3 separate regions of the Homo sapiens genome follow, and all the other regions are reported to be linked to region 1. Evidence: microRNA targets listed by miRTarBase, many of them from high-throughput screens and not tested one by one. Region 1 holds a microRNA gene; each other region holds the end of a gene's coding sequence.

Region 1 (3,129 bases):
GGAGTTCGAGACCAGGCTGAACAACACATTGCAACCCCATCTCTACTAAAAATGCAAAAATTAGTCGGGTGTCATGGTGGGCATCTGTAATCCCAGCTACTCTGGAGACTGAAGCAGGAGAATCACTTGAACCCAGGAGGCAGAGGTTGTAGTGAGCTGAGATTGCACCACTGCACTCCAGCCTGGGCCACAGAGTGAGACTTCATCTAAAAAATAAAAATAAATAAATAAAAACTTTTTCCAAATAAACAAAAGCAGGTAATTCATTGCCAACTGAACTGAACTATAGTAAATTTTAAAGGAACTTCACATGAAAGGAAAATTATATAAGATGGAAATTTGGACCTCCATAAAGGAATGAAGAGTCCTGGAAGTGCTAAATATATGGGTAAATTTAAAGACTTTTTTTAAATTTTAAAATCTCTTTAAAAGATCACTGAACTTCCAGTTTCAGCCTCAACATGTGAAGAACCTGCAAGTTATCACTCCTCTCCTTAACAATAACAGTAATCTGACCAAACTGAAAATCAAAGACTGTTCTAGATCCATCAGAGATTGAGGTACCAGTTCAAACTGCCATCCCCAAAACTGGAGAGACAGGTGAATACAGAGAATCATAACCAAGATAACAGAAGATGCTTGGGCCATAAACTGGTAGAAACACTTCAATGGTAATGGATGAATTGCTTGAGGCTGAGTGTGGACTAGGGAGTCAAAAACTCCTCCCCAGTATTTTTTTTTTTTTTGAGACGGAGTCTCGCTGTGTCGCCCAGGCTGGAGTGCAGTAGCGCAATCTTGGCTCACTGCAAGTTCTGCCTCCTGAGTTCCACCATTCTCCTGCCTCAGCCTCCTGAGTAACTGGGACTACAGGCGCCCACCACCATGCCCAGCTAATTTTGTTGTTGTTTTATTTTTAGTAGAGACGGGGTTTCACCATGTTAGCCAGGATGGTCTCGATCTCCTGACCTTGTGATCCACCCGCCTCGGCCTCCCCCAGTGCTGGGATTACAGGCGTGAGCCCCCACACCCGGCCCCTCCCCAGTCTTAGTAGGGCCTTCCACTTTGGTAGGTTTTATCTCCCAGAATCCCATTTACGGTAAAGAGTCAAGAAAAATCTTGTGTTTTGGGCCAGGGGAAGGAGCATATAGTTAACACTACTGAGTTAAATACCAAAAATGGTTAAAATGGTAAATTTTATGTTTACAATAATTTAAAATTTTTAAAAAGAAATGAGCTATTAGACCATGAAAAGACATGGAGGAACCTTAAATGCATAATGCTAAGTGAAAGAAGCCAATCTGAAAAGGCTGCATACTGTATGAGTCTAATCATTTGACATTCTGGAAAGAGTAAAACAAAGCAGTGAAAAGATCACTAGTTGCCGTGGGTTCAGAGTATGGAGGAGAGTGGGGAGGGAGGGAAGGGTGAATAGGTAGAGTACGGGATTTTTAGGGCAGTGAAACTATTCTGAATGGTACCGCAGTGGTGGGTACATGTCATTATATGTTTGTCAAACCCATAGAATGTTCAATACAAGAGTGAACCCTAATGTAAACTATGGACTTTCATTAATAATAGTGTATTAATATAGGCTCATCAGCTGTAACAAATGTGCCACTCAATGCAAGATGTTAGTAATGGGGGCAGTGGGTGGGAGAGTTGTATACATGTGAGAGGTATGAGATAACCCTATTTTTTGTTCATTTTTCTGTAAACCTAAACTTGCTTTAAAAAGAAGTCTAAATAAAAAAGAAAAAAGAACTATACTTATTTTTTTTGAACTACCACGTAACTCTTAATTAGTAGTCTTTATTTCACAGCAAATAATTACCAAGTGGACCATAGCTATCTCTTCCCAATTGTCTATTTCACTTTAAGAGAGTCAATGAATGGCGCCAATAGAAGCTATGATTGTCTCATGAACAACCTTGTCTTATTGCTTCTTAAATGGTTATGTCCTTTGCCTATTCTATTTAAGACACCCTGTACCTTAAATAGAGTAGGCAAAGGACAGAAACATTTTAAGTTCTCTAACACAGCAGTCCCCACCCTTTTTGGCACCAGGGACTGGTTTAGTGGAAGACCATTTTTCTGCAGCAGGGATTAGGGGGCCAGTGTTGGAGGGGGATGGTTTCAGGATTAAACCATTTGACTTCAGATCATCAGGCATTAGATTCTCATAAGGAGTGCGTAACCTAGACCCCTCACATGTGCAGTTCACAATAGTCTTCACAGTCCTGTGAGACTCTAATGCTATTGCTGATCTCACAGGAGGTGGAGCTCAGGTGGTAATGCTTGCTCAACCGCCACTCATCTCCTGCTGTGCGGCCAGGTTCCTGACAGGCCATGTATTGCTACTGGCCTGCAGCCCAGGGGTTGGGGACCCCTACTCTAACATTCTGTGCATACCCTCATCATAGGGCCTTTGCACTGGCTTTTTCCTATGGCTGGAACAATCTACTCCAGATACCTGCAAGACTCACTTCTTCACTTCCTTTGTCTTTATTCAAAGGGCCTTCTCTAGAAGGCTTTCCCTAACCATCTTATTCCAAATTATAACCTTGTTCCTGGACCTGTTTTTTTTCTTCATAATACTCCTTAGGTTTTAATATTGGAAAACTTATTCATTTATTGTCTGTCTCTGTCAGACCTAACCTGATTTTTGTGTGACGATTTTGTATCCTGCAACTTTGCTGAATAACAGATTGGGTGGAATCTTTAGGATTTTTTTACATATAAAATCTTGTTGTCTGTGAACAGATAACTTTACCTCTTCCTTTCCAATTTGGATGCCATTTTAGGAAAAACTTTCAAACTGTGTTTTTCCTCTGCTCTCATACCACTACAACAACAGAAGACTTCTGTGACCAAATACGTGGGGATTTCTCCCCAACATTATGTGAGCAGTTCTGCAGCAGACACCAACTGGGTATCCTCCTAATCAGTTCTGACACTAGGTGCCTAGAGATAGTGTCAGATTCCACAGGTTGAGGACTCAGTCCCCAGGACTGCCTCCCACCCCTTGACCAGTCACAAGCCCCGGTCTCCAGAATTTCTTACCAACTGGCTTCAAGTTGTGGTTCCCATGACCCCCTCTTTGGGTTCAACTGAGTTCTGGAGTGGCTTACA
Region 2 (3,129 bases), not on the chromosome of region 1:
CAGGGTAACATATACCTCATACATAGACGTACACACACAATTTAAAGTTTTATGGTCACCTTTAAAAGATAAAAAAGATAAGGGAAAATGTGTGAATTAATGACTAAGCTATAATAAAAGCATATAACTAGGCTTTAAGTCTAAAGACCAGATTACTAATTGTGATTTCAGTCATTTGTCCTTTCTAAGCCTCAGGGCATTTTTTTAAAAAAAATTTCTAACATTTGAATAATACCTACCTCTCAGAATACAGTGTTTTATGAATTTTAAACATCTATAAAAATAGTACTGCTTATAAATAAAAAAATCAAACTAAGCACACAGAATGCTCAGATTATCATAATCTCTACCGTTTGTATGATTTCCTTGGGAAGACCAAATAAATTTAAAAGTAGTAAGTAAAACATTCAGCTTCTATAACAATAAGCAATTATAATATACGATAGAGGCCGGGTACGGTGGCTCACGCCTGTAATCCCAGCACTTTGGGAGGCCGAGGTGGGCGGATCACCTGGGGTTAGGAGTTGAAGACCAGCCTGGCCAACATGGTGAAACCCTGTGTCTACTAAAAATACCAAAAATTAGCTGGGCGTAGTGGTGGGCGCTTGTAACCCCAGTTACTCAGGAGGCTGAGACAGGAGAATCATTTGAACCCACGAGGCGGAGGTTGCGGTGAGCTAAGATCACACCATTGTACTCCAGCCTGGGCAACAAGAGCGAAACCTCATCGCAAAAAAAAAAAGAAAAACATAGAAAAATTTAAATTTATATAGAATAGGTCAATCTTCAGAAACAATGTTAGCTCGGAAGAAGTTAATGTCCCATCAATCCTTCTTTTCCATAACAGACTGTTTTTGCCGAATGTATACCTAAAAATCAAATGTTCTAAGGACATACGCTATACATTTTAAATCTTTAATTAGACATCTGCACATTTAATCTAAGGCTATTATATAGTTTTAGATTAACATGACTTATTATGATTTTTTTAATACTCTGAGGTAAACTACTATCAATTTGCTCTTGGCTATATCCTCTGTACCCAAAACAGTGCCTGTATATTTTAAATAACGTAAATGAAAATGGATGTTAGAGAAGGGGAGGGAAGGCCAGTATTGTTTTCAATAAAGCCTAAATCACTTCAAAATTTAATGTAAACAAAATATGTATTTTCCCCCAAGCACTTATATACCAGGACCACTGTGTATGTCATGCCAAACACGCAAAGCACCATAAAGTGTTGCAATGTGGTTTAAAATTTTCAAGTATCTTAAAGAAAGAGTAGTCCAGCTATTTCATTTTCTATCTTGGATAGATTTATGTTTAAGAATGTGAATTTTAAAATACACACCACTTAGTTAAATTCTATCAGAAATATATTTTAAATCTTTAAAAGTCTCTTGTTTCTTAACACCCATGTACTTTTATTTTATAATGCATGATTGAGATTCTTTCATGTTGATTTCAACCTTAATTCCTAACAAAATAGAATTCAAAATTCACCAACGACTCTTATTATAGAAGACTTGTGTATGTATATATATCTCACATAGAGCTTTAATCAAAACTAGCTTTATAAATTTAGTATGTGCAAACACCCACCTAATATGATTCTATAAGAATGGTATGAAACTGTCTTATGTGCAAGGAAAAAAACATTTCCAAAAACAATCAACTCCTTAAGGAGAAAAAATGAAGGTAAAGAAATTAATATAAATAGTATTAATCAAAATTTTTATAATTACAAATGGTGCCAAATTTAGCAGGATAAATTACTCTTTTGCTTCTAACAACAAATGTTTAAAGGAATGTACAAGTAATGCTTTTAAATCACTTGGCCATAGATTTTGCTTTTGTATAGTTTGTGCTTTTTACTTTTACATTTGTACCATCTTTTTGTTGAAAATTATAGCTTCCACTTATACAATGTACCCATTATTTAAAATGATATTTTTCACATTTTCAAGATATTTTGTAAGTTCAGTAGGGTGATGATTTTCCAAACCCATTAATTATATAGTTTATTGATCTGCTTGGACTTTTTACAATAATTAAATAATTATAGATTTAAGTACATAATTTTAATAACATTTAAAATGTAAGCCTCTTTTCATTTTACATTAGTCATAAAAGCATTTGAATCTTTGTAAATAATAGTAAATTATTAACAAATATGGAGAAATCAATTCAGCAATCTGTGTGAACACAAGAGGTTTTCCTTTTACATTTTAAAAAATGCCGAAAATGAGATATCAAAATTAGGAAATGACATCTTCTTTTCATTAGGCATGTAATTATTTTACACTATGTGTTGACTTCCCTAGATCACAACAGCTTAAAAGAGGGTTAAGCCCCAAAACACAAAACAACCAAAAGATTGTAATGCCCGTACTAATACTTTCTAAACTGGCTTTGAAATAGTCACCACTTCATCACATTCCATTTTGTTTTATTGTCTTTTCATGAAAATAAAAGTCTTCCCCTAACTGGTAACATCCACATTATAAATATAACCTTCCTACTCCAGAGCTATAATTTCAGTTTTGACTGCCACTCCTGCTATTCAACTGTCATCTTCTTTATATGATGAAGAAGAGCATCTTTTTCCAAGTGAGCCTCTGCAAGAGCCATTTTAGCTTTAGCCAGTTCCTGTTTAAGAGATTCATTCTCTTCCATGAGCTGAAATGATAAATGGCGGGGGGATAAGATAATTTAATCATTTCAGGAAATACAGACTATTTATATAGTATCCAAAGGTATGACACTTGGGATAGTAAAAATGCCCATTGCTGGTGAGAGTGCACTTAAGCTGAAAACTGCTTTGAGACAACATTTGGAAACATGTATCAAGCACTTAAAAAATGTTCCCATGTTTTGACCCAGCAATACAAAATACTAACTCCTAATTTCCTAGTCTAATAGTGACTTCATTTCATATGAATTTTCCTGGACCTCTCTATGGCTTTAGACATTGCTGAGCTACACCTACTTTCTCAGCCTCTCTCCTTTTTCTGGCTTTTATGCCACAGCTGTTTCATATTTATCCATTTCAACCTATGTATGCCCTTTTCATCTTTTCTTCTACTTTTTAAGAACTCTTAAAATTTGACATTCTGTTAGTTCCATTGC
Region 3 (3,129 bases), not on the chromosome of region 1:
ATGAGATCTTCTTTTACCCTTTCAGGAGTGGTCATTCACTGTAACCACAGGATCCCATTTGGAGACTGGTTTGAATATGTTTCTTCCCCTAACTACTTAGCAGAGCTGATGATCTACGTTTCCATGGCCGTCACCTTTGGGTTCCACAACTTAACTTGGTGGCTAGTGGTGACAAATGTCTTCTTTAATCAGGCCCTGTCTGCCTTTCTCAGCCACCAATTCTACAAAAGCAAATTTGTCTCTTACCCGAAGCATAGGAAAGCTTTCCTACCATTTTTGTTTTAAGTTAACCTCAGTCATGAAGAATGCAAACCAGGTGATGGTTTCAATGCCTAAGGACAGTGAAGTCTGGAGCCCAAAGTACAGTTTCAGCAAAGCTGTTTGAAACTCTCCATTCCATTTCTATACCCCACAAGTTTTCACTGAATGAGCATGGCAGTGCCACTCAAGAAAATGAATCTCCAAAGTATCTTCAAAGAATAAATACTAATGGCAGATCTGCGATTTCTGGGTCCACTTTCTGAGATGCTTTCTAAAACCAACCAACTGATAAAAAGTAGATGAGACTTCTCCAAGCTGCTTCACAAGCAAACTAACCGAAAAACCGAAAATATACAAACAGCTTCACACACACACACACACACACACACACACACACACACACACAAAGGAAGATCATCAATGGCTGCGGTAGCCTAGTAGGAATGGACTATATAATAATATAGCAGGTGCTCAATAACTGTTTGTTGCATTTCAGTAAAAGCAGAATAACCTTTCAAAATAATAACAGGCTGGGTGCAATGGCTCACACCTGTTAATCCCAGCACTTCGGGAGGCCAAGGTGGGCAGTTCGCTTGGGCCCAAGAGTTCGAGACCAGCCTGGGCAACATGGTGAAACCCTATCTCCGTGAAAAAATATGAAAATTAGCCAAGAGTGGTGGCACATGCCTGTAGTCCCAGATACTTGGGAGTGGGCTGAGATGGGAGAATCGCTTGAGCCCAGGAGGTCAAGGGTACAGTGAGCCGAGGTCATGCCACTGCACTCCAGCCTGGCCTGGGCAACAGAGCAAGACCCTGTCTCAAAATAATAATAATATATAATTTTACACCAAAAGTTTCAGGAAAAAACGAGTTTGTTGGAGTTAGTTTATACTTTCACATATCACCACAAAGATCTCCAGTTAAATAACTATCAATATCCATTTCCATTCATCTCCCCCTCAAATCATAGCCTAACAGAACACTTTGAAAGCTCTTTTATTTAATATTTTTTTACATCCTTTGAAGGGAGTGCTTCAAAAATGAAAGCATCAGAAGATAAAATATTTTTATATTTATGCATAGCAAGCCTTCGTGAACGGAAGTGACACACTCTGGATTGAATAATACTGTAGCCTCATTCATATGTAGTTATTCAAATTGGATTAATGTCTGTGTGAGTTTATTTGAACTAGCAGAAAGTATCTGAAGATATTCAGGAATAAAGTTTATACTTAAAATAGCTTATGTTAAAGAAAATACCTGTGATTAATTCAGAGGGAAATAAATGCATGGTATAAAAGAAAACCAAAAACTTAAAAAATAATACTATAGCCTGAGCAACACATTAAAACTGCACACTTGTGCAGCGTAAGATTCTCTGGCTTATTGGCTGAGGTGTTAAGTTTATTCCTTTTATGAAGATGTCCTATTACAGTCAGCTAAGCACTAAAGCTTTGCATTTATATGTACTTTGCTATGGGGGAAAGAACCTTATGATTAATAAGACACATATCAAATGCATAGTCAATCATTCCCACCCCCATCCCTGGAGCTGTAACCCAAAACTGTTAAACTAAGATTCCTTTGTTTTTTTTGTTTTTTTGAGATGGAGTCTCACTCTGTCGCCCAGACTGGAGTGCAGTGGTGGGATCCTGGCTCACTGCAACCTCCGCCTTCTGGGTTCCAGCGATTCTCCTCTGCCTCAGCCTCCCAAGTAGCTGGGATTACAGGCACATGCCACCATGCCCAGGTAATTGTTGTATTTTTAGTAGAGATAGAGTTTCACCATGTTGGCCAGGCTGGTCTCAAACTCCTGACCTCAGGTGATCCACCTGCTTCGGCCTCCCAAAGTGCTGGGATTACAGGTGTAAGTCACTGCTCCCGGATGCATGTCAAGCACATTGGAAAGTTCTTACAACAATTCTGATGGAGGATTTTCTCTCCCATCAACCAAACACCACTTAAGATTAACCTGTGGCTCAGTCTACTTAAATAAATGCCATATTTATTTTACTTATCATTTAGAATTTGCCATTCTCAGGAACAAAACTTTTTGTACATTGGAAATGGAAAACATTGCAGTTTGGTCTTAATTTCCACATGAATATCAAGTGTAATTTTTAATAAATTATTTGGAGAAAAATGTATTTTATTTTAGCATGCAATTTTATGCCCAGGTTAGACTAGAGATTTGGCTGATGTTCTGGAATCTCATTGTACTCTTAAGTAAAATAACGAGCATCCCATGACGCACCCTGTCAGGGGTTGTGAGAAAGCTGCAGTGTCCAGTTTCCCACCCCTGTTTCCTGCTGTCTCTCTCCCACTCATCCCTGTTTCTTACTCATCCCTTTTCCTTCTTTGCCCAAACATCATATTTCTAGGCAAAGATAAGAGAGGAGATAGTGATGTCCTGAAAGGGGTTCAGAACAACGTAGCATGGCCTTTGGTGAAAGCGTCACCGATGGGAAATAATTGAGAATTGTGCAGTGCTTGCAGCGTCAGAATCAGCACTGTTTTTTGTGTTGGTGAAAATATTCCATGTGCGTAAAGGGAGAGCATCAGGGACTTTGCAAATTCTTCACAAGGACCCAGAAATAGCTTAAAGATTCATGGTTTTCCTGTTGGCTTAAATAGCCTTAATCTTTCATTTTCTACTACCATTAAGTCGGGGAAATGACATTGAACTACCTCATTAGCAGCCTTCCCTTGATTAACTACTGACTAAAAGTGTGCTGAAAATGGCCTTTGTTTTTGTGAAGCTCATCCTATACACTAACATTTGCTTAACCATGGATTATTTTGTCTCTACAAAGCTGTGCCCTGTATTCGATTTTTACTTCAATGAGTGGTTATTGCTAGAATTCCTAC

The links. The annotated mature microRNA hsa-miR-3121-5p reads UCCUUUGCCUAUUCUAUUUAAG and lies in region 1 at 1,957-1,978, shown strand. An mRNA with a match to its seed (bases 2 to 7 or 8) in the 3' UTR can be bound and repressed. Matches are read on the target gene's strand: a 7mer-m8 pairs with bases 2 to 8, a 7mer-A1 pairs with bases 2 to 7 and ends in A, and an 8mer does both.
Region 2: the mRNA of BLTP3B is a reported target of hsa-miR-3121-5p. The part of its 3' UTR that is shown has no 7-base or 8-base seed match.
Region 3: miRTarBase lists SRD5A3 as a target of hsa-miR-3121-5p. Seed matches in the 3' UTR shown: 7mer-A1 at 666-672.

The regions. Positions count from the first base shown.
Region 1 is chr1:180,437,207-180,440,335 of GRCh38, reverse strand. It overlaps MIR3121 (microRNA 3121), which reads left to right and starts at 1,946; the gene lies at 1,946-2,022. The region is part of intron 3 of ACBD6 (acyl-CoA binding domain containing 6); the gene reads left to right.
Region 2 is chr12:100,035,077-100,038,205 of GRCh38, forward strand. BLTP3B (bridge-like lipid transfer protein family member 3B) reads right to left here. Exons shown (of 21, transcript NM_015054.2): 21 at 1,996-2,679. The coding sequence ends at 2,560. Among named protein-coding and RNA genes, the nearest start is that of ANKS1B, 52 kb to the left of the region's middle.
Region 3 is chr4:55,369,807-55,372,935 of GRCh38, forward strand. SRD5A3 (steroid 5 alpha-reductase 3) reads left to right here. Exons shown (of 5, transcript NM_024592.5): 5 at 26-3,129. The coding sequence ends at 285. The region is part of intron 3 of SRD5A3-AS1 (SRD5A3 antisense RNA 1); the gene reads right to left. Among named protein-coding and RNA genes, the nearest start is that of LINC02928, 6.4 kb to the right of the region's middle.